7 linked regions of the Homo sapiens genome follow. The protein of the gene in region 4 purifies or fractionates together with the protein of the main gene of each other region. This does not show direct contact. Each region holds a gene or a part of one and is shown on either strand. Other genes may lie near its edges.

Region 1 (3,500 bases), on a different chromosome or scaffold from region 4:
AATCCCAGCACTTAGGGAGGCCGAGGCGGGCGGATCACGAGGTCAGGAGATTGAGACCATCCTGGCTAACACAGTGAAACCCTGTCTCTACTGAAAATACAAAAAATTCGCCGGGCGTGGTGGTGGGCGCCTATAGTCCCAGCTACTCAGGAGGCTGAGGCAGGAGAATGGCGTGAACCCAGGAGGCGGAGCTTGCAGTGAGCCCAGATTGCACCACTGCACTCTAGCCTGGGTGACACAGCAAGACTCCATCTCAAAAAAAAAAAAAAAAAAGAATCAACCTCCCTTTATGCAGCCCATACAACAGTGAGACTCAGTGGGAGAGAAAAATAGGATCTCTGTGGCAGAAAAGCCTGAATTCTGCAGTTAACTTTATGGACCATACAGGGCCTTCCCTATCAGTATTTTATAATTTCTTTGGTCCTTGCATGCCTAGAGAGCTACTAGTTTTACTGAGGAAGACAAAGAAGCTCTCAGACTGGAGGACAGGATCAGTTGATTCCCCCAGCTGGAATCCCAGCTACCAGGGATGGGAGTAAGCAAGAGCTTTGGGGAGCGCAGCCAGAGGAGGCCCAGAGGAGGGGACTGAGCCGGTGAAGGACAGGCAGGGAGGAGAAGAGACAGCAGGGCAGAGGGAGCAGATCAGGGGCCAGGGCACACTTTCCCAGGCTCTCTTTCCAGAATTTGTCTGCACTGGCAAAGTCTTTCTCACCTAAATCAAAGCAAGAGAATAGCAGGCCTTGGCTTTGGGGATGAGATGTGAGGGACAATAGGAAACTGTGATACCTGAGGCCAAAGCCTGCCTGAGCCTCTGTACCTGTGTCATGAAATCCCTGCTCCCTGGGTTTGGATATTGTCAGTCTTCACCAGCCTCTTTCCTTTATCCCTTTCTCTCCTTCCCATCTCTCCCACGCAGCAGCTAAGAATATAAACCATGGGGGATTAAAAATAGCAAGGCTGGAGAGTGTTATTTCTGAAGCATTTAGCAAAAGCCCTCCCCTTCTGTGTGCCCACAGTTTAGTAAAATCCCCAAGGGCAAAGGAGGAGTGTATGTTTTCTCTCTCTTTTTTTTTTTTTTTAGAAACAGGGTCTCGCTTTGCTGCTCAGGCTGGGGTGCAGTGGTGCAGTCATAGCTCACTGTAACTCAAACTCCTGGGCTCAAGTGATCCTTCTGCCTTAGACTCCTGAGTAACTGGGACTACAGACCTGCACCACCACACCCAGCACATTTTTAAATTTTTTGTAGAGATAAGATCTTGCTATGTTGCCTAGGCTAGTCTTGCTCAGACTCCTGGCCTCAAGTGATTCTCCTGCCTCAGCCTCCCAAAGTGCTGGGATTGTAAATGTGAGCCACTATGCCTCGCCCTCTGTTTTCTTGATTGTGACATCCAAGTTTTATGGAATTGATCTTTGTTTCCTCCCTCAGTCTTGGAGTGCTGACCCCATAGGATCTGAGAGCTTGGAGTGTGAAGCAGAGAAAGAAATTGAAGCAGGGGCCTGCTGGGGTTGAAGGAGATGGGTGGGTGAGGGATGGTCTTTCAGTCCTCTGCGAGAGGAAGGAAACTTTCTCCCTCCCTACCAAGCTCAAAATTAGAAGTGGGAATATGCCAGGACAGGGAGAATTTAGGTCAGATAGCCGTAAAGGTCTTCCTTAGTTAGATATTAGAAATGGAATTTAAAGGCTAAAAAATGTGGTCCAGGCTGGGCACGGTGGCTCATCCCTATAATCTCAGCACTTTGGGAGGCTGAATCAGGCAGGCAGATCGCCTGAGGTCCGGAATTCGAGACCAGCCTGGCCAAGATGGTGAAACCCCATCTCTACTAAAAATACAAAAATTAGCCAGGCATGGCAGCATTCACCTGTAGCCACAGCTACTTGGGAGGCTGAGGCATGAGAATCGCTTGAACTCAGGAGGCAGAGGTCACAGTGAGCAGAGATCACACCACTGCCCTCCAGCCAGGGCGACAGAGCGATACTTGGTCCCAAAAAATAAAAAATAGGCCAGGCGCAGTGGCTGATGCCTGTAATCCCAGCACTTCGGCAGGCCAAGGCAGGCAGATTACTTGAGGTCAGGAGTTAGAGACCAGCCTGGCCAACGTGGTGAAACCCCGTCTCTACAAAAATGCAAAAAATTAGCCAGGTGTTGTGGCGTGCTCCTTAATCCCAGCTGCTCAGGAGGCTGAGGCAGGAGAATCGCTTTTTCCTGGGAGACAGAAGTTGCAGTGAGCCAAGATGGCACCACTGCACTCCAGCCTAGGCGACAGAGTGAGACTCCGTCTCAAAAAAATAATAATAGAATCAAATTAAATTAAAAATAAATAAAAAATAAAAGTATGGTCCCTCTTGCTCTGGGGAACCTTATGAATCTCACAAAAATCTTGGACCCTGTCACCCAAAAAAATACACGAGTTATGTTAATATGTAAAACTATTTACACACCTTCAGAAGGTTTACAGAGCCACTGAAGCCTGACATCCCAGGGGGTCTGTAGGCCCTAGGTTAAGAAACCTGAATCAGTCAGGTAGAAAGGGTTTTCTGTAGACACTGAGTGATCCCTGTGGTTCCTGCTAGCCCACAACGCTGTTTTGTCTGATAGCACATGAATCTTTCTGCACCCTGCCCGCCCCCCACCCCCCACCCACACTGTTTTTAAGCTGTAAGAATGTGTGACCAGGCGCGGTGGCTCATATCTGTAATCCCAGCACTTTGGGAGGCCGAAACTGGTGGATAAACCTGAGGTCAGGAGTTTGAGACCAGCCTGACCAACATGGTGAAACCCCGTCTCTACTAAAAATACAAAATTAGCCGGGCATGGTGGCACACGCCTGTAGTAGTCCCAGCTCCTTGGGAGGCTGAGGTAGGAGAATCGCTTGAACCCGGGAGGCGGAGGTTGCAGTGAGCCAAGATTGCACCATTGCACTCCAGCCTGAACAACAAGATGAAAACTCTGTATCAAAAAAAAAAAAAAAAAATAGAATGGGTGAGGTGTGAGAGGTCTGAAAAAGTGCAAGCAGCCAGAGGGAAGAGAGGCCAGGAAGAGGGAAACTGGGAGCTCTAACCTGATGGGATAAGCCTGGTCCTTGGGAAAGAGGGAAGCAGCTGCTCAGACCGTCTAGTGCTGACTGTTCTCCCACCTTCATCCCCTTCCAGATGTGCTAGTGCTGCTGATGACAGATGTACTGGTGTTTCTCCAGGAAAAGGACCAGAAGTACATCTTTCCTACCCTGGTGAGACATTCATTCTTCACCTTTCTCAGCACAGACAAGTGTTTTAGTCTCTTCTTGCTTTCCTGCCCAAGCCCACGAGAGCTCTGGAGTCCCCCAGAGTCAAACAGCTATAATTGTTACTATTACCGTAATAATAAAAAATAAGAGCAGCTCACAGGTACTGTTACTGTGCACAGGCACTTTTACACCTGTGGGAAAAGATTATTTTCGTCCTCATTTTATAGATGATGAAAGTAAAGCTTCAAGTCAGTTAAATAATTTGTCAAGGGTTG
Region 2 (3,500 bases), on a different chromosome or scaffold from region 4:
GTTTTGGAGATGGGGGTCTTTCTATGTTGCCCAGGCTGCTTCCTTTTTTTGAGATGGAGTCCCGCTCTGTCACCCAGGCTGGAGTGCAGTGGCACAATCTCAGCTCACTGCAACCTCCACCTCCCGGGTTCAAGCGATTCTCCTACCTCGGCCTCTCGAATAGCTGGGATTACAGGCGCACGCCACCATGCCCAGCTAACTTTTGTATTTTTAGTAGAGACAGGGTCTCACCATATTGGCAAGCTGGTCTCAAACTCCTGACCTCAAATGGTCCACCCACCTCAGCCTCCCAAAGTGCCCGGCCCCCCTCTTCTTTTTTTTGTAGACAAGGTCTCACTCTGTCACCTTGCCTGGAATTCACCAGCGTGATCATGGCTCACTGCATACAGCCTCAACCTCCCGGGTTCAAGTGATCCTCCCCCAACAGCTTACTGAATATTCTCTGTGCTGATGGGATCTATGTTGCCCAGGCTACTTTTTAAATTTGTTTTGAGACAGGGTCTTGCTCTGTTGCCCAGGCTGGTGTGGAGTGGTATGATCATGACTCACTCCAGCCTTAATCTCCCTGGCTCAAGTGATCCTCCCACCTCAGCCTCCTGAGTAGCTGGGAATACAGGCACGTGCCATTAAACCTGGCTAGCTTTTGCATTTTTAGTAGAGACAGGGTTTTGCCCAGGTTGGTCTCGAACTCCTGGGATCCACTGATCTTCCCACATCGGCTTCCCAAAGTGTTGGAATTACAGACATGAGTCACAGTCCCAGGCCCAGGCTGCTTCCTAACTTCCTAGTCTGGGCTACAGTGACCACCAACTTTGCAATTATATCATGTATTTTACTGCCACTTCAATTCTAATGCTTCTAATTTCAGCTTCTATTTTCTTTAATGTGAAGAGAAATACAGATGTACGTAAATGACCAAAACCCCTGCAGACTGTGAAAGGCCCTGACTGCCTGTGTGTGGGGTTCAACTCTTCATTCTAAAGGGAGAGGAAGACGATCCATCAAAAACAGTCATCCAGGCCGGGCACGGTGGCTCATGCCTGTATCCCAGGACTCTGGGAGGTCAAGCTGAGCGAATCACTTGAGGTCAGGAGTTCCAGACCAGCCTGGCCAACATGGTGAAACCCCATCTCTACTAAAACTACAAAAATTAGCCGGGAGTGCTGGCGGGCACCTGTAATTACAGCTACTCAGGAGGCAGAGGCAGGAGAATCGCTTGAACCCAAGAGGCGGAGGCTGCATAGTGGCAGAGGCTGCAGTGAGCTGAGATGGCGCCACTGCACTCCAGCCTCAGTGACAGAGCGAGACTCTGTCTCAAAAAAAAAAAAAAAAAAAAAAAAAGAAACAGTCATCAAGAGGGTCCACCCCACTTCAAATGATCACTGTGTTCTAATGAGGAAACTGCTCATGAATCCACTTAGTGAAACTGAATTCTTAACAGTTCTAGCAGAAAATTTCAAATACACACAAAGGTAACTTAGAGGGTAGTTCCTAATGGTTAACCTGTAACCACATAACCTTTATCATCCTCTCTCTGTATGTATATGTACGTGTGTATATATGTATGACTATGTACGTATGCATATACACATATTTCTATTTCTGATCCATTTGAGTAAATTGCAGACATGATGTTCTTTTACCCCAAAATATGTCCATGTGTATTTCCAAAGAACAAAGACACTCTCTTACATAACCACAGCAGAATTACCCAAATCAGGAAATTAACATTGGTACAAACTACTCACATTTTCCCCGTTAAATGTGAGAACAGGCCGGGCACAGTGGCTCACGTCTGTAATCCCAGCACTTTGGGAGGCTGAGGCGGGTGGATCAGGAGGTCAGCAGATAGAGACCATCCTGGCTAATAAAGTGAAACCCCGTCTCCACTAAAAATAAAAAAATTAGCCATGCATGGTGGCACACGCCTGTAGTCCCAGCTACTCGGGAGGCTGAGGCAGGAGAATCGCTTGAACCTGGGAGGTGGAGGTTGCAGCGAGCCAAGGTTGCGCCACTGCACTCCAGCCTGGGCGACAGAATGAGACTCCGTCTCAAAGAAAAAAAAAAAAGGATATTTTTTCCTACACGCTTACGGTTAAGAGTTTGCTTGGTGCCTGTAATCCTGGCACTCTGAGAGGCCAAGACAGGAGAATTGCTTGGGCTGAGGAGCTTAAGACCAGCCAGGGCAACATAGTGAGACCCTGTCTCTACACAAAATTTAAAAATTAGCTGGGTGTGGTAGTGCACTGATAGTCCCGAATACTAGGGATGCTGGGGCAGGAGGGTGGCTTGAATCCAGGAGCTCAAGCCTGCCCTGAACCATGATTGTGCCACTGTACTCCAGTCTGGGTAACAGAGTGAGACCCTGTCTCCAAAAAAAAAAGTTTGCTTGGCATTATAAAGGAAATAAAAGGAGTGCACACAGAAAGTTTGCTTGGCACACCTGTCACGACACCTGTAAGTGGTGCTGGTCTCATGAGTAGAACAGATCTGTGAATGACAATTCTAATTTGTTGGGTCAGAATTTTCTCATTCATGTCTCCTCTTTCTCTATAGCCAATGTCAGCTGATGACCAGTTTAAGAAATAACATTGGCCGGGCGCGGTGGCTCATGCCTGTAATCCCAGCACTTTGGGAGGCCGAGGCGGGCAGATCCTGAGGTCAGGAGATCGAAAGCATCCTGGCTAACACGGTGAAACCCCGTCTCTACTAAAAATACAAAAAAAATTAGCCGGGCGTGGTTCGGGCACCTATAATCCCAGCTACTAGGGAGGCTGAGGCAGGAGAATGGCGGGAACCCGGGAGGCAGAGCTTGCAGTGAGCCGAGATTGGAGATCGCACCACTGCACCCCAGCCTGGATGACAGAGCGAGACTCTGTCTCGAAAAAAAAAAAAAAAAAAAAAGAAAAGAAAAGAAATAACATCAACTAGAATAGTGCAAACTGCCTGCAAATTCCTTCCACTGTGGCCAACTTCCCAAGTGTGAGGAGGTCTGTGAGGAGCACCAAGACCAGCCACTTTGGCCTCCATCATTCTCACAAATACCTTTCCAGTCAGTGGGGAGGAAATAATCCCATTGCCGATGTTCTTCTTGGAGTGATCTGGAATCACACTCGGGCGGCCGGGAAGGGAGGAGGAGCCTGTCCTGGAGATGAGGCCCTCGGGACTTTTCTTAGAGCCTGGAATTCTGTCAAAGGAAGAAAACAAGTAGGGAATTCTCTTACTAGGCATTACAGAAACGGAGAGAATTAGAATAAGTTAAGGCGGGGCAAAGGCAGAAACACGGCCTGGGGAAACCCTGCCAGTCCTAACCACTTCTCTGGAATCTCCCTTTGCCTTTCAACCACAGTGAGGCTGAGAGATCAGCCCCAAGTATCTGCTGAATATAAGCAGAGCAAGGGCAAATTAGAGTCAGAATTCCTCCAAGATCAGAGTTCAATGCACCAGAAAGCAAGAACCTCAAACACCTCAGCCACACTCTGCAGAGACGTACAAAGCAG
Region 3 (3,500 bases), on a different chromosome or scaffold from region 4:
CGGGAACAGTGGCTCACACCTATAATCCCAGCACTTTGGGACGCTGAAGTGGGTGAATCACTTGAGGTCAGGAGTTCAAGGCCAGCCTGGCCAACATGGTGAAACTCCGTCTCTATTAAAAATATAAAAATTAGCAGGCGTGGTGTCAGGTATCTGTAGTTCCAGCTACTCAGGAGGCTGAGGCAGGAGAATCGCTTGAACCCAGGAGGCAGAAGTTGCAGTGATCCGAGATCACACCACTGCACTCCGACCTGAGGGACAGAGCTAGACTCTGTCTCAAAAAATTAAAAAATAGTAGTAATAATAGTAATATGGAAAATAAGGAAAGTTTGATAAGTAGATATGTTATATGCAATATACTGTCCTTTCTCTACTCATATTCCCTGACAAAGATAAGGAAAAACAACAAAGTAGACATCTTGAAGCAGAGTCTTCCAGCTCAAAAGGAACTAAGGTGGTCCATTTGTGGTAGACAGGGATGTTAATCTTTCAGCCAACAAGCCTGTATCCACCCAAGACATATGTCTATGAAATTAAAAAGTTAATATACACCAACTTAAATCACATTCATTTTATACGAACCTCAGTTTCAACTGCTATTTCATACTTGGATTTCTTGCCTGGCATAGTCCGAATCAGATTCAACAGGCCATCTTCATCAATAATTTTTGTCCCCAAGGCTGCGGCCTGTTGATTAAAAATGTAAACCATCAAAACTGCATCCTGCATCCTACCATTCCCTTCTCTTACAAAAAAAAAAATTCTAGGGCCTATTAGTAGGTGAAAAACCACATTCGTAAATTAAGATAACACTGGAATTAAAAAAGAAAAACAAAAAATAGCACATTCATTGAAAAAGTAACATTGAAAAGAAAGAAAATAACAGATACATTCCCTAAGAGTAGCAGGTTGGCATGGGAAGTGGTCCATTTCTACTTTTGTGGACTGCTTTACCTTTCCTCCCCTAGAAAGGGGCAATGGCCACTAGGGCCTAAGACCAGCTCTTCATACCTTCTCCCATATTTAATGCATATGGCAGACATTTCCCCCACCTTCTTCCCTGCTGATGGAACTCCAATGTGTCCTTCTTCAAGTGATGAATGATGACTGGTCCAAGGCAACCAGAAACGTCTTGGTTCTTCCCAACCTCCCATACAGCTCTGAGTGGCCAGGTGACAGCTCTGGCCAATGAGCCTTATGTGAAATTCTATAAGACATGTTTCTGGGAAAACTCTCGTCAGGCCAGTCACAGCTCTTATGACATACTTGCCACTGTTCCCTTTTCCTGCCTTGAATAAGAATTTAAATGCCTAGAGCTGCAACTACCTTGCAACCACAAGGCAACATGCATGAGGACAAAAGTTAACACAATAAGGACAGATGGAGGAACCACATCGTTGAGATGCCGAACTATCCCAGCAATACCTCCAGAATTCTTGTGAGAAAAATTAGCAGCTGTTTAATCCACGGTTAATCAGATATTCTGCTGTTTGGAGCTAAACACAATCCTACCCAACAGGCCGCTGATTCTTTTTCTAAAAACACCAATTTAAAAAAACCTAAGATGGTGTATACAGTGGCATATATAGGAATACTTCGGACTGGAAGAAAAAGAAAACTGCATTTGTTTCTATCTTCAAAAATAAAAAAAGACTTAAACTTAAATACACTAAAAAAAAGTCAAGTAAACAGGAACTATGCCTTCCATTGGAAAACCAAAATCCTGGTGTCAGAGCCAATAACACTTCTGTGGAGAAGAAATAATGTAGGCAAGAAATTACTTTTCTATTTCTTTCCTTCATTTAACTCTGAGTAAAGGGCAAATCACATCAAGAGTGTGCCAAGGCAGGCAGGAGGTGTCATGGTGTTGAGAACAAAGCAGTACCCACCTTATCACTCTTGGACTGTCCACTATCACGACCCATGACAAGATAATTTGTTTTCTTGCTGACATTTCCTGTTACTTTTCCCCCATAACGTTCAATTAGAGACTTGGCCTCATCTCGTTCAATAGACTCCAGCACGCCTGTGATTACAAATATAAGGCCTTCCAAGCAATTTTCAGCTCCCTAAAAACCAAAATGTTCAAGCAGAGAGGAAATTACATGGTAGCTTTCCAAAGAAACATTTGGCATCAAAACTGCAGGAAGTTGATTTTTCTCATTTCACATCATAAATAACCTTGGCATGGAAAGTTTGCTGGAAATTTACAGCAAATAAGCACCACCTGAAATTAGATCCTAAGAAATTTTGATATGGCTAACGTTTAATAAACTTACAAAACAAGCAGTGAAAAACATACATCCAACACTGTTAGCAAAGCTATTAAAATTACCCATTCATACTATTTTCCATTATGCCCTCTTCATATCTAAACTACTAGTTAACTTGCATAACTATAAATAAACAACCAAATGCAATCCATCTGTAGAAACTCTTGCTATTCAGGAAACTGCTTGTTCTTAAGAACTTTCCCAACAAGAATTTAATAGAAGCAGGTATACTCCTATCATTTTGATGTTTCTGTTAATGTTTCGAAACAATGTACTTTAAAATCAGAATCACTTCTTATCATTTTCAAATACTTCTGATGCTTTTCACCACATTAGTGATCAGAAATGAGGTCTAATTCCCCAATCCCTGCCCGCAAGAGCTAAGTAGGATCTTAACTGTAAGTTGAAGGGAGTTTTGCCCGAACTCATGGATTGTACAAGAACAAACTGCTGCTGGGTTGGATGGTCTGCCAATGGATTGTGGTGTGGCATATCTGAAGGCTACTGAATGCAACTTATAATGCTTAATAAAAAATTTTTACTGTTTTATGGGAAAAAAGGGAAAAAAGGCAACTCTTGCTATTGTTAAAAAGGGAAAGTTTTGATTCTAAAAAGCTAAGCAAGTGTGAGCTCGTGCCTTCCTCTCTGCTCATTACTCTAGGATAGTAAATCTAGCAATCTTCTAGTAACTTAAAGGCAAGATCGTATTATCTCTGGATTGGAAAGATAACTCTCATAATGTATAATATAAGAGATACTTGCCAAAGAGAGCTGGATGGAAAAGACATTAAATCTTAATTGGAACTATGTTGAGTTATATATTTTTGCAATGGTTCAATAAAATTATACAACCAAACAAAATGAAAATTATACATGACATTCCAAGTTACTTATTACTCTTTTAATAGAGAATTGAGATTAATAAACTTAAAATGGGCTTGAAAAGCAGCAGCCAACCAAAATTCAAAGACTGCCTCCATGTAAGTTCAATCCTTCACCATTCAGATGAAGAATCTTTCTCGGAAGACAAAAAGAAACAGCTATGAAGGTGCTTGGAAAGAAAAGGTTTGACTAACAATATCTCAGGGTCCCTTGAAGCCTTTATGGGTTCTTGGATTGAAATGATCTACTGTAACACTACAGGAACTTAACTACTTCTGAACAAACTCAAAACAACCCTGGAAAAATTGCACATGCAAGCCCCTATATCCCATATCCCAAACATCT
Region 4 (3,500 bases):
CAGCCTTGAATTTGAAACCTGGGTCGGCCACTTATTGTGATACTCTAGGCAAGTCATTTAATGCTTTTAGATACCAGTTTCCTTACTGCAAAATAAGATACTAGTAGCAATGTCAAAGTGTTAATGTGAGATTTAAATAAGATAATGTATAAAATGTTTAGCACAGCTGGCATACAGAAAGGGCATAACAAATGTTAGCATTATTATCAACACTGTATTAGTTCATTCAGCCTACACAACAGGTTCTAGCTGCTACATGGCTACACATACCCATGCAACTGTTTATAGTATTCTTCTTCATCACCTTATATGTTCTAAGAACCTTGGGTAGTGTATGTATTTTACTGAGATTAAAGACAGAATGAGGGTGAATGGGTCCAAGTGCAAGCATTCTCCATCTTCCCACTCCACTCCCTAATGGAACTAGATGTTCACTCTGTTATTGAAAGCAGTGATTGTGGAGTCCTAGTAAGGGAAAAGGAGTCAGGCGGGTGGGAAAAGGGTACAGCAAAAAGAAAAAGCAGATAAGGTATAAGTCTGCCTTTCTTCATGGTCCAAGACACACAGCCCTCTTGCACAAATAACTCACAAGCTTTCTGCACTCAACTTATCACCAGACTCTCAGCTGACAGAAAAATGCAAGTTAGCTCACTGCAACCTTGGCCTTATCAGTACTGCACATAGCCCTCTCTGCAGCACACAGCAGAAGCATCATCCTGTAACATGCCCAGCAAGCCATTGTCTCCTGGCAGTCAGCTTCTCTCTTGCTGATCTGCCCGTTGCACCCTTGCAACCAACCTACTTTCATACTTTCTCTAATAAATCTGCCCTTCTTTACCTACAATTGCCTTGGTAATTCCTTTACCACCTGCAACGCCAGCCTCAGCTAGTGTGACCTATGACAGTGAGGATGAACACAGGAAAACACACTACAGGCACAGTTTTGCTTTTCAGCACTTGGTTGACAGGAGGCTGATAAACTGCCTAATTGTGCTCTGCTTACTTTAGATGAACACTGCTCCCTCTTAAAACTTCATTTGAGATCACATAATTATGAATTTATATCAAATTTGGTCCAACCCAAACAAAATGTGTTATCTCCACTGATCACATATCCAAATGCCTTTTTATCTGTACATAGCATATTTATGCCAGTTTTGTTGTAGATGGAGTCACCTGGGCGCAGTGGCTCACGTCTGTAATTCCAGCACTTTAGGAGGCCAGGATTACACTTCAGGAGGCCGAGGCAGGTGAATCACTTGAGGTCAGGAGCTCGAGACCAGCCTGGACAACATGGTGAAACCCCATCTCTACTAATACAAAAATTAGCTGGGCGTGGTGGTACATGCCTGTAATCCCAGCTACTAGGGAGGCTGAGGCAGGAGAATCGCTTGAACCCAGGGGGCAGAGGTGGATTGCAGTGAGCTGAGATCGAGCCACTGCATTCCAGCCTGGGCAACAGAGGGCGACTGCATCTCAAAAAAAAAAAAAAAAAGTTAAAAAAGTAGATGGAGTCATAAAACCTCTACCAACTACCTGCCTCTTTAAAGACATGATTTAAGTAAAAGCTACAGTTCTATTTTTATGGAATTTTTATTTAAAAATATGGTATCTAGGCCTACGGCTACAGGCTTACATGTGTAATCTTAGCACTTTGGGAGGCCAAGGCAGCAGGATCACTTGAGCTCAGGAGTTTGAGAGATCAGCCTGGACAACATAATGAGAATCTATCACTATTTTAAATCACTATTTAAGAAAAAGAGCTGGGCGCAGTGGTGTGTGCCTGTAGTCCCAGCTACTCAAGAGGCTGAGGCAGGAAGATCCCTTGAGCCCAGAAGTTCTGGACTGTAGTATCCTATGCCGATTGGGTGTCTGCACTAAATTAGGCATCAACATGGTGACCTCCAGGGAGTGAGGGACCACCAGGTTGCCTAATGAGAGAAGTGGCCCAGGTCAGAAACAGAGCAGGTCAAAACTCCCGTGCTTATCAGTAGTAGGATCACATCTGTGAATAGCCACTGCACTCCAGCCTGAGCAACACAGTAAATCCCCCGTCTTTAAAAAAAAAAAAAAGTAAGCATGGAATCCACTTCTCTGCTAACTTCTAAAAACTAGTCTTAGTTCTCTTTGCCAGAGGAAGCAGAATCTAATTTTAAAATTTAAAAGTACTTCTATGTGGCTTCACATAACATAATTTGTCTATTGCTAATTCTTCTGAGCTTGATGTGAGAATGTAGTAGATACTAAAAGGAGTATGGTAAAGGTAAACAATACTTCATCTTTAAAAACTAATTTTAATGAGGTTTATCCAAATATAGTTTTTTTTTGTTTTGTTTTGCTTTTGAGATGGAGTCCCGCTTTGTCACCCAGGCTGCAGTGCAATGGCGCAATCTTGGCTCACTGCAACCTCCCCGGTTCAAGCAATTCTCCTGCCTCAGCTTCCCAAGTAGCTGAGACTACAGGCATGTGCCACCATGCCCGGCTAATCCAAGTATAGTTTTAAAACATTATTTTGACTTCTACACTATGTACATACTTTACATATTCAAAAATAAAATCCTAAGTAAAAACTGAAACCTATGAACCATATCAAATTGGTAGCATAACCAGAGAAAAGTATTTCAAGTGACTTTTGAACACAGTACTCATTATACATTCTTCATGCAATATAGTCTAAATACGAAAATAAATGCAAAGAAATCTTAAACTACATGAAGCTTATTGGTATTAGCAATACCAGCACTATAATTTTAAAATGATTTTATGTATACAGTGGGAGAAAGCAAATAAGTTTATTATTTTTTTTGGAGACAGGGTCTCACTCTGTCATCCAGGCTGAAGTGCAGTGGGGTATGAACATGGCTCACTGCAGCCTCAACCTCCTGGGCTCAAGTGATCCACCTGCTTCAGCCTCCTGAGCAGCTGGGAACACAGGCACACACCACCACGCCTGGCTAATTTTTTTATTTTTTATAGAGATGGGGTCTCATCATGTTGCCCAGGCTGGCCTTGAACTCCTGGGCTCAAGCAATCCTTCCACCTCGGCCTTTCAACGTCCTGGGATTACAGGCATGAGCCACTGTGCTTGGCCAGTTTATTAACTGTATTAAAAACCAAGATTTTCATTTAAGACAAGAGACAAATATAGAGTCAAGGAAGAAAAAGTCTGCTTGTTAAATAGGAATTGGAATATCACTCTGAACTCATGATTAAACAAGCAAAAACCTTTTTCTTAGTTCTCTCCTCTCAAAGCACCTAGAAGCAATGATACTGCAGCAGCAACGAATATGCCAAACATCCAGAACTTGGTTTCTATATACGATTTCTCATTAAAAAGAACCAAGACTCCCTGGATAAACAGCTCTTTCCAGAGGTGAGCAAAGAAAGTATAAGATAAACCCTGGAGTAACTCGTGTCAGAAAGCACTCCAAGATTAATGGGGAGCAGGGGTGTCAAGACACACAATAGTCAGCTTGAAATGGTTCCTACTGACCAAATCT
Region 5 (3,500 bases), on a different chromosome or scaffold from region 4:
CAGATCTCCTGAGGAGCATAACATGAGGCCCTCATATTTTAAGGAAACATGAAAAGGAGAAACAACCAGCTCCCCCAAAGCCCCTGCCTTCCTCTGCTCTGAAATTCCCATCCTCTCTCCTTTCCCCCAATAAAGGTCCAAGAGGGAACAGGAGGTGACGGAGCTGAAGAAGACTCTGGAGGAGGAGACTCGCATCCACGAGGCGGCAGTGCAGGAGCTGAGGCAGCGCCACGGCCAGGCCCTGGGGGAGCTGGCGGAGCAGCTGGAGCAGGCCCGGAGGGTGGGTTGGGGCAGGGGGACAGGGCAGGGGGGCCACGGGGAGGGCAGGGCAGGACGCGGGGTTGGAGGAGGTACCGCTGGCTGGTTCTAGGCTAGCTCATCTCCCTGGGCCCCTTTCCTCACGCATTCATGTGCATCTTTCATTCAGCAAGCATTAATGGGGTGTGGACTATGTTCCAGGAGCATTGCTGGGGAACCAGCCATGAACCCAACAACCAGCACTGCCTTCCCTTGTGGAGCTTTCCTTTTAGTGAGAGAGGCAGAGGGTAAACAATATAAACACTTTCAGTTTATATTGGGGTGATAAGTGCTATGGGGCCATAATGAACAGGAAAAAGGGATCAGAATTCTAAGGCGGGTGAGTTTTTAAGTAGAGAGGCTGTGGAGGTATTCTGCGAGAAGGTGACATCAGGGTAAAAAACTGAGGGAGTGGCCGGGCATGGTGGCTCTTGCCTGTAACTTTGGGAGGCTGAGGCAGGCAGATCACTTGAGGCCAGGAGTTCGAGACCAGCCTGGGCAACATGGTGAAACCCCATCTCTACTAAAAATACAAAAACTAGCTGGGCGTGGTGGCACACACGCCTATAGTCCCAGCTACTTGAGAGGCTGAGGCAGGAGAATCACTTGAACCCAAGAAGCAGAGGTTGAAGTGAGTCAAGATTGTACCATTCCACTCCAGCCTGGGTGACAGAGCAAGACTCTGTCTCAAAAAACAAACAAACAAACAAAAATGGGCCAGACGTGGTGGCTCATGGCTGTAATCCCAGCACTGTGGGAGGCTGAGGTGGGTGGATCACCTGAGGTCAGGAGTTCAAGACCAGCCTGGCCAACATGGCAAAATCCCATCTCTACTAAAAACACAAAAAATTAGCCGGGCGTGGTGGTGGGCGCCTGTAATCCTAGCTACTTGGGAGGCTGAGACAGGAGAATCACTTGAACCTGGGAGGCGGAGGTTGCAGTGAGCAGAGATCGTGCCTTTGCACTCCAGCTTGGGCAACAAGACTGAAGCACTGTCTCAAAAAAAAAAAAAAAATTGGGAGTGAGGGGTGAGCTATTTGTTCACTGGGAGAAGTGTGTTCCAGGCAGAGGGAACAGCCAGTGCAAAGGCCCTGAGATGGGAGTGTGCCTGGCCTGGTCCAGGAAAGGCCTCATAGATCTTTGCTCATCTCCTTCCCACACCAGGGCAAAGGTGCATGGGAGAAGACCCGGCTGGCCCTGGAGGCCGAGGTGTCCGAGCTGCGGGCAGAACTGAGCAGCCTGCAGACTGCACGTCAGGAGGGTGAGCAGCGGAGGCGCCGCCTGGAGTTACAGCTGCAGGAGGTGCAGGGCCGGGCTGGTGATGGGGAGAGGGCACGAGCGGAGGCTGCTGAGAAGCTGCAGCGAGCCCAGGTAAGTGGGGTGGGCAGGGCAGAGGTTTCTGCTGTGTGACCTTGGTGACATGCCTGCCCTCTCTGGGCTTCTATTTGGTCCATATCAAACCAATTGTCTCGTTTGGCTCTTCCAACATAATCATGTACAAGTCTGGGCACAGTGGCTCATGTCTGTAATTCTAGCACTTGGGAGGCCAAGGCAGGAGGATTGCTTGAGCCCAGGAGTTCGAGACCAGCCTGGGCAACATAGTGAGACCCCATCTTCAGAAAAAAAAAAATTTTAATTAGCCAGGTATGCTGGCATGTGCCTGTAGTCCCAGCTACTCAGGGGACTGAGGAAGGAGGATCCCTTGAGCCTGGGAGGTCGAGGCTGCAATGAGCTGTGATTGTGCCACTGCACTCTAGCCTGGGCAACAAAGTGAGATCCTGTCTCAAAATAATAATAATAATACCCAGTACTTTGGGAGGCCGAGGCGGGCAGATCACCTGAAGTCAGAAGTTCGAGACCGGCCTCACCAACATGGAGAAACCCTGTCTCTACTAAAAAAAAAAAAAAAAAAACACAAAATTAGCCGGGCGTGATGGCGCATGCCTGTAATCCCAGCTACTCGAGAGGCTGAGGCAGGAGAATCACTTGAACCCGGGAGGCAGAGGTTGTGATGAGCTGAGACCGCGCCATTGCGTTCCAGCCTGGGCAGCGAGAGTGAAACTCCATCTCCAATAATAATAATAATAATTCACTCATTTAAGATGTGCAATTCAATGGATTTTGGTATATTCACAGAGTGGTATGGCCATCACCATAATCTAATTTTGGACCATTTTCATTATCCCAAAAAGAAAATCCTATACCCTTTAGCTATCATCCCCCACTTCTCCCCCACCCCACCCAGGGAACCACTAATCTCCTTTCTGTCTTTACTGATCTCCCATTCTGGAGATCTTATATAAATGGAATCCTACTATATATGGGTGGCCTTTGTGGCTGCCTTCTTTTACTTAACATAACGGTTTCAAGATTCATCTGTGTTGCAGCTCGTAGCATAATTCCTTTTTTATTTTTTAATTTTTAAAACACCAGCTGGGTGCAGTGGCTCATGCCTGTAATCCCAGCACTTTGGCAGCGGAGGCGGGTGGGTCACCTGAGGTCAGGAGTTCAAGACCAGCTGCCTGACCAACATGGTGAAACTTCGTCTCTACTAAAAATACAAAATTAGCCGGGTGTGGTGGCGCATGCCTGTAATCCTAGCTACTTGGGAGGCTAAGGCAGGAGAATCACTTGCACCTGGGAGGCGGAGGTTGCAGTGAGCCGAGATTGCACCATTGCGCTCTAGCCTGGGCAACAAGAGTGAAACTCTGTCTCAAAAAAACCCCAAAAAACAACAGCACGCAATAGATCCATATACCTTTCTATTGCCGAATAATGCCCGTTGTATGGATATTCCACATTTGTTTATCCATTCGTTTATTGATGGACATTGGGGCTGTTCCCGCCTCTTGGCGATGGTGAGTAATGCCACTGAGAACATTCCGGTACGAGTTTCTGCATAGACCTATGCGTTCATTTCTTTTGGGTATGCACCTAGGAGCGGGATTGTTGGGTCATGTGGGAACCCTATGTTTAAGCATCTGTGGATCTGCCAGACTGTTTTCCACGGCAGCTGTAACATTTCACATTCCTGCCAGTGTGGTAGAGAGTTGAGGCAGATGGGGTCACTGGGTGGAAGCCACGATTGGAGGGCTTCATTCCCGTCCCTTCCCTGCAGGCTGAACTGGAGAATGTGTCTGGGGCGCTGAACGAGGCTGAGTCCAAAACCATCCGTCTTAGCAAGGAGCTGAGCAGCACAGAAG
Region 6 (2,975 bases), on a different chromosome or scaffold from region 4:
TGGCCTTTCCCTCCTCTAAGTGGCTCTGCAGAAGGTGCTCGTGGTACTACCAGAGACTGACCTTCCCAGCTGGTGGTCTAGCTCCTCCCTTGTAGCCCTTTTGTGCTGAAGGGAGCTGACTTGAGTTCCTGGCAGAGCTGGCCCCTTCCCCCAGATCTTGATGAAGAAAAACAAGGGGAGGGAGTGTGCCACGTCTGGGCAGCAGTGGCCTTTTCTGACTTCTCTGCTGAGCCCCAAGCAAAGGAAAGGGAGCCAGAGGCCCCACTCTCCCAGCATTGACTCACAGAGCTGTGAGACGAAGCCCTTGTGCAGAAACAGGGATGGCAGGAGTTCAGAACAAAAAATGCAGTGGGGCAGGGACAAAGGGCCAGGGCCAGTGTGTTGGAGGGGAGCAGGTGAGCAGGGCCCCATCCTGGGGCAGGAACACCTTACTGCTGAGAGCTTGCAAGAGACCAAGGCCCAGCTGGGAAAAGGGAAGAGATGAACGGCAGAGGCTCAAGTTGAGAAATCCAGATTTACTTGTGGCCTTTCTCCAGGGTGCCAGAGAAGACCAGCAGGCATGGGCGGATGGGGCAGCTGTGCTGTGGGTGAGTGAGTGGGTGTAATAATACCGGGTAACATTTGCGACGTACCAGGCGTTGGGCCAAGGAGCTTGCACACGCTGCCTTGGTCCTCACAGCAGCTGATGAGGCAGGTATCACTATCTCCATGTTACAGGTAAGAAAGCCAGCTGAAAGGCAGCAGGAACTGGCACAGGGTCACCCGGCTGGGAAGTAGAGCAGGGATGTGCCCCAGGCAGTCTGATGTAGAAGCTGCCTCTAGTCTATGAATCTTTGCCTCTGATGGATCAGAAGAGGGAGTCAGGGGAGTCCTTGGAGCTCCAAACACTGCTTTGAAAGCCACCCCTCAAAGAGCTGGAGAGTTGGAGAGAGAGGCTTTGGCAAGAGCTCAATAGAAACACTGTTTATTCAAATGACAGGCAGGAAGCGGTGGCAGCAGCAGGGGGGAAAGGGCAGCCAGGCAGGGGCTGGGCAGTGCTTCCCTGTGTCCCCTGCAATCCTGCTTGGACAGCCACCCGGCTGTTGGCATCAGGGTCAGAAATACTTTCCCTCCTCTCCCTCCTGCCCCAAACTGAATAAATAGCATCCCTCTCCCCACGAGAGCTAGGGGAGACTCATGTGCTGAGTTTGGTGCCCCAGTCACAGCCCAGAGTCCGGTGAGGGCAGAAGTTCAAAATGGCTTGTAGGGAGTAGAATACAAAACTGTTCTACTCATTCTCACCTTCCTCTTCCTCCTCCCTGCCACACTCCCCTCCCAGCCTGGTCCCAGGACAGGTGGTCGGTGAGGGTCTGGAGCGGGAGAATTGTTGCCTAGCATACACTGAGCTCAAGTTCACAAGGCCATCCAGCCTGTCACCCATCCGGGTTGACCACCAAAGAGAACGTCTCACTTCACGCCACTTTATGGACATAAAAGGAGGGGCAGGGAGGGAGGCAGTGGGCAGCCAGGCCTTTCCCAGCCTCAGAGGTAACCAGAGTCCGAGGAGCAGGCCCCCTACCGATCCATCTCGTCCAGGAGTGGGGTGGCATCGCCAGCAATGGACATGGGGGTGCTTTCGATCATGGGGCTGGGGGAGGGCCGAGGTGTCAGCCGCTGCTTCTGTTTCCGCCGTTCTGCCTCCTTTTCCTGCAGCCACTGCTCCGCCATTTTTCCCCAGTCGATGGCTGCATGGCTGTTGGACCTGGGAGGGGAAGAAAAGTTGAGATTGGGACTTTGCTAGAAGGAAGTCTTCCCACCAATCACTGTACCCTTGCAGAAAGGAACCTCATACCTATGGGCAGCAGCCCCTCTACTGGGATAAGGCAGATACAGCAGCAGCTGGCTGCCATACTGCCCTCTTCCGTCTTCACCCAGAAACTAGTGTTCCTGGCATATCATGTGGTCAGGGCCCTCAGAGGATCCAGAGCACCTGCCTCTGCTAAGCCTTTCGGCCTCTTGACAACACCTGCCCCTACCACTGACCTGCACTGTGCCACCATCCAGATACTTACTTTGGCTGCTGCTGCCGTTGCCGGGAGCTGGAAGAGGGCTGGGGCTGGGCCTGGGCCGACTGTGGGGTGGTGCTGGCCTGGAGCTGGTGGTACTGAGGGGTGGTGATGGGCTGGCTTGGGGTCGTGTAGGAGTAGCTAGGGGTCATTAGTGGTGTGGCCACTGGCTGCTGGGCTGGCGTTGGGAATACCTGGAGAGGCATGAACAGTTAAATAGGGATGGGTGTGGGGCTTGTTTGGCCTTGCTGTGAATTCTGGGTAAGCGCAAGGGTGGGCTCAGCAAAGCTTTCCAGATGATCTTCCACTGAGTATGTGCTTCTGACCAGCAGTGGGAAGCCTGCAGGTCAGCACCGAGCACACAGTGGTGCCCACTGGTCCTGACCATGTCAACTTTCTGGTGGCTTGCGGGTTCCAAAGATCCCAAAGGCCCGTGGAAAGGTTATGCCCTCTCTTACCCTCTTCCCCTTCAAATGGGCCTAAGGACAAGAAATATCTGTTGGAGACAGTTACCAAGGCCGTGGCAGCCCCATCTGTGCATGTGAAGCCCCTTGTGGGCAATGCGAGAGGGCAGTCTATGGGCCCCACCCTGCACAGGGAGCTTCCTCCCCAAGCCACATACGTGGTAAGCACTGCTGCCGCCTCCACTGCCGCCATAGCCGTACTGGCTGGAGGCCCACTGGGCTGGGGTGGCATTAGGGTTCTGTCCTTGGCCTGTCACCGCAGCAATGGCACTGAACATCTGTGAAGTCATGTTCTGAGGCAGGGCATTCACAGCCCGTGTCAGATCTGTAAGCACACAGAGGTGGGGAGGGGCATGTTAGAGGTGAAAGTCCCTTTAGCTCCATCCTTCCCACCTCCAGTCCCAGGCTCAAGCTCCTCACCTGCAAGGTTGATGTTGGCTGGGGTAGCATTGATAGAGGCAGGTGT
Region 7 (3,500 bases), on a different chromosome or scaffold from region 4:
ACCTTTTAATACCATCGCCTAGGGGGTTAGTTTTTAACATATGACTCTGGGGGAGGAGAACATACATTCAGACCATAGCAATCCCCAAATACTTTAGTGTGTATTTTCTACAAAGAAGGACATTTTCCTGTACTAGCAGTATAACCATCAGAAGTAGAAAATTAACATTGATTCATTATTACCATCCAATCCTTAGATCCCACTGGAGTTTCGCTTGTTGTTCTGATAATATTTTTCTAACAAAAGAATCCAGTCCATGGTTATATGTCACATTTAGTTGTCATGTCTTTTTAATCTTCATTAGTACAGAACAGTTTCTCAGTCTTTCTTTGATTTTCATGACCTTGACACTTTTGAAGATTACAGATGAATTATTTTGTAGAATTTCCTCAATTTGGATTTTTCTGATGCTTCCTCATTATGAGATTCAGGCTATACATCTATGGTGGGAATTCAGGGAAGTGATATATCCTATCAGGTGACACATGATTTCAGTTTGTCCCAGAACTGATGATATTCACTTTAATCCCTTGATTGAGGTGGTGTCTCCCAGGATTTTCCTCTGTAAAAGTTTTTTTCCCAGTTTATAATTAATATGTTTTTTGGGCTGGGTGTGATGGCTCACGCCTGTAATCCCAGCACTTTGGGACGTCAAGGTTGGCAGATCACTTGAACCCAGGAGTTGAAGACTAGCCTAGGCAACATGGTAAAACCCCATCTCTACAAAAAAATACAAAAGTTAGCCAGGTGTGGTGGCATGTGCCTGTAGTTCCAGCTACTTGGGAGGCTGAGGTGGGAGGATTGATTGAGCCCGAAAGGTCGAGATTGCAGTGAGCAGTGAGCTGAGATTGCACTGCACTCCAGCCTGGGTGACAGAGTGAGACCCTGTCTCAAAAATAAATAAAAATAGAATTAATATGTTTATGTGAGATAGTACTATGAAACTGTAAATATCTCATTCTTTATCTTACTTTGATTTATTCATTATTTTTATTTGTATGGAATCATTGTTTCCTATTTTATTTAATAGGTTATAATCCATTACTATCATTACTTATTTACATGATCATCTTGTTCCCAGTTTGACCAGGGAGAGCCTCTTCAGTGTGGCTTCTGTGACTTCTTTTGTCTTTTGATATATCCCTTTCATTCTTTGAACATTTCCTTGCTTTTGGTACAAGATCACCTAAGCTCATCTTGAACATTCCATGCCCTACTCTTGGAACCAGCCATTTCTCCCAGAATGCCTAGCTCCTTTTAGTGGATCTGGGCACTAATGTGCTCTTTGCTTTTGAAATGTCATTGTTCCCAGATCCTCTTTTTTCCCTCTCCATACATGTAACTGGAGTTCCAGAAGGCAAAGAGGGAAAGAATCCATAGACTCCCATAGACCCCATAGATTTTGAGCACTCCGTTGTGATTTTTTTCTGCCAGTCTTCTTCTTTTTGTATTTCAGTTCAGTAATTTCTTTTTTTGTTGTTGTTTTGTTTTGTTGAGTAGGGTCTCACTGTGTCACCCAGGCTGGAGTGCAGTGGTACAATCATTGCAGGCTCATTGCAGCCTCAAACTCCTGGGCTCAAGCGATCCTCCTGCCCCAGCCTCCCAAGTAACTGGGACTACAGGCATATACCACTATGCCTGGCTAATTTTTTTTAATTTTTTGTAGAGAAGAGATCTTGCTGTGATGCCCAGGCTGGTCTCAAACTCCTGGCCTCAAGCGATCTCCTGCCTCAGCCTTTCAAAGCGCTAGGGTTACAGGCATGAGTCACTGTGCCTGGCTCAGTTCAGTAATTTTTATTGGTCTATCTTCAGGTTCACTGATTCTGTCCTTGGATGTGCCCGGTCTGATGATAAACCTGTTGAAGGAACTTTTAATCTGACTTTTTTTTTTTCCTGGCATTTGTATTTGACTTTTTTTTTTTTTTTTTTTTTTTTGAGACAGAGTTTTGCTCTTGTTGCCCAGGCTGGAGTGCAACGGTGCAATCTTGGCTCACCACAACCTCCACCTCCTGGGATCAAGCGATTCTCCTGCCTCAGCCTCCCGAATAACTGGGATTAAAGGCATGTGGCACCAAGCAGCTAATTTTGTATTTTTAGTAGAGATGGGGTTTCTCCATGTTGGTCAGGCTGGTCTCAAACTCCCGACCCCAGGTGATCTGCCCACCTTGGCCTCCCAGAGTGCTGGCCTTTACAGGCCTGAGCCACTGCACCCAGCCTGTATTTGACTTTTTATTGTTTCCATCTCTGCTGAAATTTTCTATCTATTCATAGATGTTGTCTATCTTTCTCAACTAGATCCTTTAACATAAACATATTAGTCCAGCCTGGGCAATATAGCAAGATCCTGTGTATAAAAAAATATAAATAAATAACATAAACATATTAATCATAGTTATTTTATATCTCCTGTCTGATCAAACATCTGGCTCATCTGAGAGCCTGCCTCTGTTGTTTACTTATTTCCTGACAGTGGGTTTTTTTTTTTACTTTTTGTATGTCCTGACATTTTTAATTGAGTGGTAGTATATTAGTTTTCGTTATAGTCATGAATTGGGCTGAATTTAGAGTTCATTGTATATCAACAAAGGCTTCAAATTCCTCCAGCAGTGGACTGCTATAACCTTGTGATTTGAGGTTACCAAAGGACATTCCTCAGTGCTTCTGCTTTACCCTCAGCCTTCAGCTACTTCTGCACATGTGTGCCACAGAAGTGTCCTCTTTTCAAGTACCTGCCTCATCTGCCGCACTAGACTGCTGCTCTTTGTTTCCTGGGGCTAAGCACACGGTGAGGGCAAGTGGGGTTCTTGGATCTCTGGTGCAGTCTCAGTCTTAGGCAGACCTCTGTGAGGGGCAGGGTTTTCTCAATATTCCTGCCTCTCCTATCTGTAGCAGCCAAACTTTGCCTTGAATCTGTGGTGGGTCTTGGGCAAGACATATTTTCCTGCCCTTCCTGGAGAGCTGGAGAGGTAGCAGATCCTTACTTTGTATCAGTGAACTGTCCTGGGCCCAAGAGGTTTTCCTGTGCCTCTCCCAGAGGCAGAGTTTTTGCTTCTGCCTTCCTCCAGACACAGTGGATCTTTGCCTAGTCCCTAATGGCAGGCCCAATTCCTGCTCTTCCTACAGCTTGAGGCTTTGGTTCCTATGAGAGAAGAGTGTAGGGAAGTGCCCAGGTTTCATGTCTGTTTCTGAGCACAGCCAATCAGCTCCCTGCCCCAGTCTTTGTTTTGAGCACTGGGTGGAAGCCTCTGGAAAACAGCCTGCATGTGAATGGGAAATCTACTTGTGTCTGGAGCTTCAAAAAATTCCACATTGACACACTTTCCCACACCCAGCCTTTCGTAATTGTTCAAAAGTTTAGCTGATATTTTCTTATTCTTATCTGTGGCAGCCATTTCTTCCCCCCATGCACTGCCAAAGGTGAAACAGTCTTCCCTCTCTCTTTAAAAGGATTTGTCACTCTTTGGAGGGCAGTTCACTTCTGTGCTTTATGACCTCAAATC

Evidence for each region.
Region 1: the proteins of ZBTB44 (region 4) and ARHGEF2 purify together in Homo sapiens (affinity purification with mass spectrometry; one large-scale study listed by BioGRID and IntAct). This does not show direct contact.
Region 2: the proteins of ZBTB44 (region 4) and USP36 purify together in Homo sapiens (affinity purification with mass spectrometry; one large-scale study listed by BioGRID and IntAct). This does not show direct contact.
Region 3: the proteins of ZBTB44 (region 4) and RFC1 purify together in Homo sapiens (affinity purification with mass spectrometry; one large-scale study listed by BioGRID and IntAct). This does not show direct contact.
Region 5: the proteins of ZBTB44 (region 4) and MYH14 purify together in Homo sapiens (affinity purification with mass spectrometry, with the first as the bait; one large-scale study listed by BioGRID). This does not show direct contact.
Region 6: the proteins of ZBTB44 (region 4) and SUPT6H purify together in Homo sapiens (affinity purification with mass spectrometry; one large-scale study listed by BioGRID and IntAct). This does not show direct contact.
Region 7: the proteins of ZBTB44 (region 4) and AHCYL2 purify together in Homo sapiens (affinity purification with mass spectrometry, with the first as the bait; one large-scale study listed by BioGRID). This does not show direct contact.

The regions. Positions count from the first base shown.
Region 1 is NC_000001.11:155,958,048-155,961,547, reverse strand, and holds part of ARHGEF2 (rho guanine nucleotide exchange factor 2), read left to right. Parts: intron 1-3,151; coding exon 3,152-3,228; intron 3,229-3,500. UniProt on the Homo sapiens protein: Activates Rho-GTPases by promoting the exchange of GDP for GTP.
Region 2 is NC_000017.11:78,809,815-78,813,314, forward strand, and holds part of USP36 (ubiquitin carboxyl-terminal hydrolase 36), read right to left. Parts: intron 3,188-3,500; coding exon 3,046-3,187; intron 1-3,045. UniProt on the Homo sapiens protein: Deubiquitinase essential for the regulation of nucleolar structure and function. Required for cell and organism viability.
Region 3 is NC_000004.12:39,310,863-39,314,362, forward strand, and holds part of RFC1 (replication factor C subunit 1), read right to left. Parts: intron 2,070-3,500; coding exon 1,890-2,069; intron 688-1,889; coding exon 583-687; intron 1-582. UniProt on the Homo sapiens protein: Subunit of the replication factor C (RFC) complex which acts during elongation of primed DNA templates by DNA polymerases delta and epsilon, and is necessary for ATP-dependent loading of proliferating cell nuclear antigen (PCNA) onto primed DNA.
Region 4 is NC_000011.10:130,308,418-130,311,917, forward strand, and holds part of ZBTB44 (zinc finger and BTB domain-containing protein 44), read right to left. Parts: intron 2,058-3,500; exon of another isoform or gene 1,763-2,057; intron 1-1,762. UniProt on the Homo sapiens protein: May be involved in transcriptional regulation.
Region 5 is NC_000019.10:50,276,622-50,280,121, forward strand, and holds part of MYH14 (myosin-14), read left to right. Parts: intron 1-135; coding exon 136-280; intron 281-1,461; coding exon 1,462-1,668; intron 1,669-3,415; coding exon 3,416-3,500. UniProt on the Homo sapiens protein: Cellular myosin that appears to play a role in cytokinesis, cell shape, and specialized functions such as secretion and capping.
Region 6 is NC_000017.11:28,700,205-28,703,179, reverse strand, and holds the end of SUPT6H (transcription elongation factor SPT6), read right to left. Parts: coding exon 2,930-2,975; intron 2,835-2,929; coding exon 2,668-2,834; intron 2,240-2,667; coding exon 2,052-2,239; intron 1,742-2,051; coding exon 1,555-1,741; 3' UTR 501-1,554; downstream 1-500.
Region 7 is NC_000007.14:129,392,530-129,396,029, forward strand, and holds part of AHCYL2 (adenosylhomocysteinase 3), read left to right. Parts: intron 1-3,500. UniProt on the Homo sapiens protein: May regulate the electrogenic sodium/bicarbonate cotransporter SLC4A4 activity and Mg(2+)-sensitivity. On the contrary of its homolog AHCYL1, does not regulate ITPR1 sensitivity to inositol 1,4,5-trisphosphate.